Regions from separate parts of the Homo sapiens genome. Here region 2 is linked to region 1. Evidence: fine-mapped expression QTL. A gene starts in region 1. The other region holds a variant in brackets. All regions are shown on one strand. Distances are from middle to middle. Region 1 holds the start of MTDH (metadherin). Region 2 has its middle 52 kb from the start of MTDH.

Region 1 (4,212 bases):
ACATATGGCACCACTTCAATTTAAAGGTTTTTTTGTTTTGTTTTGAGACAGAATCTCCTTCTGTCACCCAGGCTGGAGTGCAGTAGCACGATCTCAGCTCACTGCAGCCTCCACCTTCTGGGTTCAAGTTATTTTCATGCCTCAGCCACCTGAGTAGCTGGGATTACAGGCGTGAGCCACAGCACCAGCCATTATTGTAATAGTTTAATTTGAAAATTCACAGGTGGGCCGGGAGCGGTGGCTCACGCCTGTAATCCCAGCACTTTGGGAGGCCCATGCGCGCGGATCACGAAGTCAGGGCGACTGCAGCCTCGGCAACACAGCGAGACTCCATCTCAAAAAATAAAAAATAAAAAATTCACAGATGTTTATCTAGAATGGTCAGAATAGTCAGTGGAACTTCTTAGGAAAATCATGACCCTTCACATCTCTAGAACCAAAACACGTGCAGAAATCTTATTTCACAAATATAAATGGAATTTGGAAACTTTGAGTTAAAGCAGATCCCAATAACATTTGCTAAGTTTTTGGCCTCCTAATTTAATTTAGTCTTTAATCATAAGTCTTGGCAAGTGTAGTATGCTTTTATTATTTATTATTTACAAAACTCCCTTCCACACATGAATCACAATATGCATTACGACACTGTTGCAAAATAGGTCAAAATACATTTTTGGTATTTGGTGGTTATTAATATTACCCCTGCTGTATTCCTTGAGAAAGCCTGTATTTAGTTCACTTAAGACAGTTGCTTACACGCTAATGATCATTTACCGATAAAATACAGAGTTTCCTTATAGCAAAATATAATCTTAAAACCCTAAGGCAGCCTTCAAGCATTTCCCTTATAATTAAAACCTGAAGGCCTGGCGTGGTGGCTCACGCCTGTAATCCCAGCACTTTGGGAGGCTGAGGTGGGCGGATCACGAGGTCAGGAGATCAAGACCATCCTGGCTAACACGGTGAAACCCCGTCTCTACTAAAAATACAAAAAATTAGCCGGGCGTGGTGGTGGGTGCCTATAGTCCCAGCTGCTCGGGAGGCTGAGGCAGGAGAATGGCTTGAACCCAGGAGGCGGACCTTGCAGTGAGCGGAGATAGTGCCACTGCACTCCAGCCCGGGCGACAGAGCGAGACTCTTGTCTCAAAAAAAAAAAATTTGAAAAGGCAGTTCGTTTCCTTCTATAGCTGCATCCCAGAGATGGTCAACATAGCATATAAAAATGGAATTTTTGCAAACCCCTTTTGCAGTGTTGTAGAAAAGCTTAAAATAAAACGTAACGAGAAAGCTCCCTCCATAAGTAAATACAATCTAATGTGCTTCCCCTTATGTGTTATTAAAGCTACAAATTAGTAGGAAAAGAATAGTGCCGCCCACGGGCTTTCCAACTTTTGAATTCTGGGGACTAACAACAGAGAGCAAGAGTGAATGAGCCAAACGACGCAAACGTGCCCTCGCCAGGCTGGCAACTGGTAGGCACGCAGTGTATTAGTTGCCCTGGAGAGAAACACCCTGGAGAGAAATACCCAATTTGTGAACTAAACCTAGGTCCCGGAAGAACAGTGTTCGGCGTCAGACTCCGTTGAGCTCATTCTGGAAGGATCCAACTGGCGCCACCAGGGAGAAAAAGCGATTCCACCTCAATAACACTCCAGAAAAAGGCATGAAGAGCCCTATACCTGCCAGGGCGACTTTGACCTAGACCCGGTGACCCGGTTCCTAGCGCTGCAGCCCTACCCGCCCCCCGCCCGCCCCCGCCTTGCACGGAGCCCCTCCTCTGTACTCATTCGTTGCGCCACGTCTCCTAACTCTGCGCCACCAGCCACCCCGCGAAGGCGTCCACCAATTAACCCCTCCCAGCTTCTGGTCTACAGTAACGGGTCCCCAACGCCGCGTCTTAACCAGGCCCGAACCGACCACCGCCAACCTTCCCTGACACGCCTTTGCCCCACCCGACCCCGCCCGCCCCCACGTGACGCCCACGCCCCGCCCACTGGCGCCCACGTGACCCACGGTCGTCCCCGCGCGCGGCGTGGATCGCGGCCCAAGCCGCCATTGTTCCGCCGAGGGAGGACAGCGGGGCCTGGCGCTGGCGCCGAGACGCCGCTTAGCGGCCGCCACTGGAGACACTCCCTCCCGCCTCCCGGGTCTCCTGGCGGCGGCGGAGTGAGGCTGACAGCGGGGAACCTGGGAGACCCCTCCGCCCTCCCCGCGGTGGCAGCGGCCGATCCCCGGCTCCGGCGCGAGGGACGGCCGCGATGCGCTCGGCCTGAGGTTACCCGGCCCGGCCCTTCCTCGCTTCCCTCGACTATTCCACTGCGTCTCCGCGCCCCGGCGTCATCCTGCGAGTCCCTCTGACGGGAGGGAAGATGGCTGCACGGAGCTGGCAGGACGAGCTGGCCCAGCAGGCCGAGGAGGGCTCGGCCCGGCTGCGGGAAATGCTCTCGGTCGGCCTAGGCTTTCTGCGCACCGAGCTGGGCCTCGACCTGGGGCTGGAGCCGAAACGGTACCCCGGCTGGGTGATCCTGGTGGGCACTGGCGCGCTCGGGCTGCTGCTGCTGTTTCTGCTGGGCTACGGCTGGGCCGCGGCTTGCGCCGGCGCCCGCAAAAAGCGGAGGAGCCCGCCCCGCAAGCGGGAGGAGGCGGCGGCCGTGCCGGCCGCGGCCCCCGACGACCTGGCCTTGCTGAAGAATCTCCGGAGCGAGGAACAGAAGAAGAAGAACCGGAAGAAACTGTCCGAGAAGCCCAAAGTGAGTATGGGATGAGCGGCAGTAGAGAACGGGCGAAGGGCGGGCGTGGAGACCCTCGAGCTTGGGGGAGGCCGCGCCCCAGCCGGGAAGGAAAAGAGTGCTTAGTCGAAAGCCGAGAGGCAGCACTCCCAAGTGGAGGAGGAGGTGATAGGTGGTCATGTTATTTGGGGAATGGGGGGAACTCAGGAAGTATAGGACGAGTGGGGAAGCCCAGTTTCGAGGAAGGAAGTTAGGAGGTCTGGGGGTCCGTTCAGATAGGCGCCCAGAGGTCAAGCCATCTTTGGGAACCGTCACCGCTAGAATAAGCACAGCATCCTTCCTTGAGGCCTGCAGAGTAGGCTGCATGTGGAGCGTAATGGGACCTTAAGGTGGTGTTAGGAAGTTGTATAAAGACTGCGCTCGGAAGACAGATGTCTATCTCAAGTCACATTGAGACAGTAGGCAGTGGAAGAAGTGCGGTGACCTAGAAATTCTGGGGCTTACACAGGATTAAAGGTGTCCAGGTCTAGACGCGCTTCCATTTTAGTTGGGACTGTTAAAGGGAAATGGTTGCCCATTCTTGTTCTGGCAAATGTGGCCAACAGAGGCCGGAACGGGAGCAAGGCAAGAGGGGGTCGGTTACCTAATACGCTTTGAGGTGTATGGTCCTGTGAGAAAGAGCTAAGGCGAGTTCAACGAACGAGTCTGTTGCACACTCTGTGGCGTGGTAGATTTGTGAAATAGAGTAAAGGGAGATGACAGGGCAGAATGGTGAAAGCCGAGAGAGGAATTCAGGCACCGATTTACTGGGCCACGTGTGGAAGTTGCAGAGGGCATCACGTCTGTCTTAGGCCTTCATGTTTTACGTTTACATTCTTTATTGCCATTCCCATGGTTCTCCCATTATATCTTTCATAGTTTTATGTATTTTTAAAAATATTTTACATTTGAGCAAATTGAGACTATGGAGGGTATGCAGAGTTAGAAACAGCACCTAACCTATTTTTATATCCAGCGAATTAAGATCTTCACCTTTTCAGTACAATTCAGTAAGCCAGTACGAAGGCCCTACCATGTGAAATTTGCACTCTGGTGTTTGGAGGGCAGTGCAAGGTATACACGTAGAGTCAGTGTTGGAGAGTAGTGGAGACAGATTCATAAATAATTAGAATTTTGCATAGACTGATAGGTGTTAAAGAGGTTTTAACTGAGTGTTAATGAGGTTTGGAGGGTAGGAGACATTTCACTGGAGGGCTTTAGGAAAGTTGTTGGAGGAAATGGGGTTTGAGTTCCAACTAACAAGAGTTTTGTTGGTAACAAACTCTAATCTCTAGATTAGAGATGTGACAGGTCACAGTTAGTGCATTATGAGGCCTGGATAGGCCTTCACGTTTTGCCTGCTGATTAAGAGATGCAAGATACATATGAAACCTGGAAAAGGCACAACTTTGTCAATGTGAATACTACCATAAGTTAGGAGAGG
Region 2 (4,241 bases), 52 kb before region 1:
GTCCCCAGAGTGTGATGTTCCCCGTCCTGTGTCCATGTGTTCTCATTGTTCAATTCCCACCTATGAGTGAGAACATGTGGTGTTCGGTTTTTCGTCCTTGTGATAGTTTACTGAGAATGATTTCCAATTTCATCCATGTCCCTACAAAGGACATGAACTCATCATTTTTTATGGCTGCATAGTATTCCATGGTGTATATGTGCCACATTTTCTTAATCCAGTCTATCATTGTTGGACATTTGGGTTGGTTCCAAGTCTCTGCTATTGTGAATAGTGCCGCAATAAACATACGTGTGCATGTGTCTTTATAGCAGCATGATTTATAGTCCTTTGGGTATATACTCAGTAATGGGATGGCTGGGTCAAATGGTATTTCTAGTTCTAGATCCCTGAGGAATCGCCACACTGACTTCCACCATGGTTGAACTAGTTTACAGTCCCACCAACAGTATAAAAGTGTTCCTATTTCTCCACATCATCTCCAGCACCTGTTGTTTCCTGACTTTTTAATGATTGACATTCTAACTGGTGTGAGATGGTATCTCATTGTGGTTTTGATTTGCATTTCTCTGATGGCCAGTGATGGTGAGCATTTTTTCACGTGTCTGTTGGCTGCATAAATGTCTTCTTTTGAGAAGTGTCTGTTCATGTCCTTTGCCCACTTTTTGATGGGGTTGTTTGTTTTTTTCTTGTAAATTTGTTTGAATTCATTGTAGCTTCTGGATATTAGCCCTTTGTCAGATGAGTAGGTTGCAAAAATTTTCTCCCATTTTGTAGGTTGCCTGTTCACTCTGGTGGTAGTTTCTTTTGCTGTGCAGAAGCTCTTTAGTTTAATTAGATCTCATTTATCAATTTTGGCTTTTGTTGCCATTGCTTTTGGTGTTTTAGACATGAAGGCCTTGCCCATGCCTATGTCCTGAATGGTATTGCCTAGGTTTTCTTCTAGGGTTTTTATGGTTTTAGGTCTAACGTTTAAGTCTTTAATCCATCTTAAATTAATTTTTGTATAAGGTGTAAGGAAGGGATCCACTTTCAGCTTTCTACATATGGCTAGCAACTTTTCCCAGCACCATTTATTAAATAGGGAATCCTTTCCCCATTGCTTGTTTTTCTCAGGTTTGTCAAAGATCAGATAGTTGTAGATATGTGGCGTTATTTCTGAGGGCTCTGTTCTGTTCCATTGATCTATATCTCTGTTTTGGTACCAGTACCATGCTGTTTTGGTTACTGTAGCCTTGTAGTATAGTTTGAAGTCAGGTAGCGTGACGCCTCCAGCTTTGTTCTTTTGGCTTAGGATTGACTTGGCAATGCGGGCTCTATTTTGGTTCCATATGAACTTTAAAGTAGTTTTTTCCAATTCTGTGAAGAAAGTCATTGGTAGCTTGATGGGGATGGCATTGAATCTATAAATTACCTTGGGCAGTATGGCCATTTTCACGATATTGATTCTTCCTACCCATGAGCATGGAATGTTCTTCCATTTCTTTGTATCCTCTTTTATTTCATTGAGCAGTGGTTTGTAGTTCTCCTTGAAGAGGTCCTTCACATCCCTTGTAAGTTGGATTCCTAGGTATTTTATTCTCTTTGAAGCAATTGTGAATGGGAGTTCACTCATGATTTGGCTCTCTGTTTGTCTGTTATTGGTGTATAAGAATGCTTGTGATTTTTGTACATTGATTTTGTATCCTGAGACTTTGCTGAACTTCCTTATCAGCTTAAGGAGATTTTGGGCTGAGACAATGGGGTTTTCTAGATATACAATCATGTCATCTGCAAACAGGGACAATTTGACTTCCTCTTTTCCTAATTGAATACCCTTTATTTCCTTCTCCTGCCTGATTGCCCTGGCCAGAACTTCCAACACTATGTTGAATAGGAGTGGTGAGAGAGGGCATCCCTGTCTTGTGCCAGTTTTCAAAGGGAATGCTTCCAGTTTTTGCCCATTCAATATGATATTGGCTGTGGGTTTGTCATAGATAGCTCTTATTATTTTAAGATACGTCCCATCAATACCTAATTTATTGAGAGTTTTTAGCATG[A/G]AGGGTTGTTGAATTTTGTCAAAGGCCTTTTCTGCATCTATTGAGATAATCATGTGGTTTTTGTCTTTGGTTCTGTTTATATGCTGGATTACATTTATTGATTTCCATATGTTGAACCAGCCTTGCATCCCAGGGATGAAGCCAAATTGATCATGGTGGATAAGCTTTTTGAGGTGCTGCTGGATTCGGTTTGCCAGTATTTTATTGAGGATTTTTGCATCAATGTTCATCAAGGATATTGGTCTAAAATTCTCTTTTTTGGTTGTGTCTCTGCCTGGCTTTGGTATCAGGATGATGCTGGCCTCATAAAATGAGTTAGGGAGGATTCCCTCTTTTTCTATTGATTGGAATAGTTTCAGAAGGAATGGTACCAGTTCCTCCCTGTACCTCTGGTAGAATTCGGCTGTGAATCCATCTGGTCCTGTACTCTTTGGTTGGTAAGCTATTGATTATTGCCACAATTTCAGAGCCTGTTATTGGTCTATTCAGAGAGTCAACTTCTTCCTGGTTTAGTCTTGGGAGGGTGTATGTGTCGAGGAATTTATCCATTTCTTCTAGATTTTCTAGTTTATTTGCATAGAGGTGTTTGTAGTATCTCTGATGGTAGTTTGTATTTCTGTGGGATTGGTGGTGATATCCCCTTTATCATTTTTTATTGCGTCTATTTGATTCTTCTCTCTTTTCTTCTTTGTCTTGCTAGCGGTCTATCAATTTTGCTGATCCTTTCAAAAAACCAGCTCCTGGATTCATTAATTTTTTGAAGGGTTTTTTGTGTCTCTATTTCCTTCAGTTCTGCTCTGATTTTAGTTATTTCTTGCCTTCTGCTAGCTTTTGAATGTGTTTGCTCTTGCTTTTCTAGTTCTTTTAATTGTGATGTTAGGGTGTCAATTTTGGATATTTCCTGCTTTCTCTTGTGGGCATTTAGTGCTATAAATTTCCCTCTACACACTGCTTTGAATGTGTCCCAGAGATTCTGGTATGTTGTGTCTTTGTTCTCGTTGGTTTCAAACAACATCTTTATTTCTGCCTTCATTTTGTTATGTACCCAGTAGTCATTCAGGAGCAGGTTGTTCAGTTTCCATGTAGCTGAGCGGTTTTGAGTGAGTTTCTTAATCCTGAGTTCTAGTTTGATTGCACTGTGGTCTGAGAGACAGTTTGTTATAATTTCTGTTCTTTTACATTTGCTGAGGAGAGCTTTACTTCCAACTATGTGGTCAATTTTGGAATAGGTGTGGTGTGGTGCTGAAAAAAATGTATATTCTGTTGATTTGGGGTGGAGAGTTCTGTAGATGTCTATTAGGTCCACTTGGTGCAGAGCTGAGTTCAATTCCTGGGTATCTTTGTTAACTTTCTGTCTCATTGATCTGTCTAATGTTGACAGTGGGGTGTTAAAGTCTCCCATTATTATTGTGTGGGAGTCTAAGTCTCTTTGTAGGTCACTCGGGACTTGCTTTATGAATCTGGGTGCTCCTGTATTGGGTGCATATATATTTAGGATAGTTAGCTCTTCTTGTTGAATTGATCCCTTTACCATTAAGTAATGGCCTTCTTTGTCTCTTTTGATCTTTGTTGGTTTAAAGTCTGTTTTATCAGAGACTAGGATTGCAACCCCTGCCTTTTTTTGTTTTCCATTTGCTTGGTAGATCTTCCTCCATCCTTTTATTTTGAGCCTATGTGTGTCTCTGCACGTGAGATGGGTTTCCTGAATACAGCACACTGATGGGTCTTGACTCTTTATCCAATTTGCCAGTCTGTGTCTTTAATTGGAGAATTTAGTCCATTTACATTTAAAGTTAATATTGTTATGTGTGAATTTGATCCTGTCATGATGATGTTAGCTGGTTATTTTGCTCGTTAGTTGATGCAGTTTCTTCCTAGCCTCGATGGTCTTTACAATTTGGCATGATTTTGCAGTGGCTGGTACTGGTTGTTCCTTTCCATGTTTAGTGCTTCCTTCAGGAGCTCTTTTAGGGCAGGCCTGGTGGTGACAAAATCTCTCAGCATTTGCTTGTCTGTAAAGTATTTTATTTCTCCTTCACTTATGAAGCTTAGTTTGGCTGGACATGCAATTCTGGGTTGAAAATTCTTTTCTTTAAGAATGTTGAATATTGGCCCCCACTCTCTTCTGGCTTGTAGAGTTTCTGCCGAGAGATCCGCTGTTAGTCTGATGGGCTTCCCTTTATGGGTAACCCGACCTTTCTC

Evidence for each region. PIP is the estimated chance that this variant, and not a neighbour inherited with it, causes the effect. A credible set is the group of variants that fine-mapping cannot tell apart.
Region 2: its variant is the best candidate, but not a certain one, in a credible set for the expression of MTDH in whole blood (TOPMed, PIP 0.59).

Annotation. Positions count from the first base shown.
Region 1 is chr8:97,642,138-97,646,349 of GRCh38, forward strand. MTDH (metadherin) reads left to right here and starts at 2,047. Exons shown (of 12, transcript NM_178812.4): 1 at 2,047-2,750. The coding sequence starts at 2,370. RefSeq lists silencers at 1,635-1,744, 1,925-2,384, 2,655-2,724, 3,008-3,176 and enhancers at 1,897-2,877, 2,878-3,856.
Region 2 is chr8:97,589,750-97,593,990 of GRCh38, forward strand. No RefSeq gene overlaps it. Among named protein-coding and RNA genes, the nearest start is that of MTDH, 52 kb to the right of the region's middle. The variant A/G (reference allele first, on the strand shown) is at 2,040.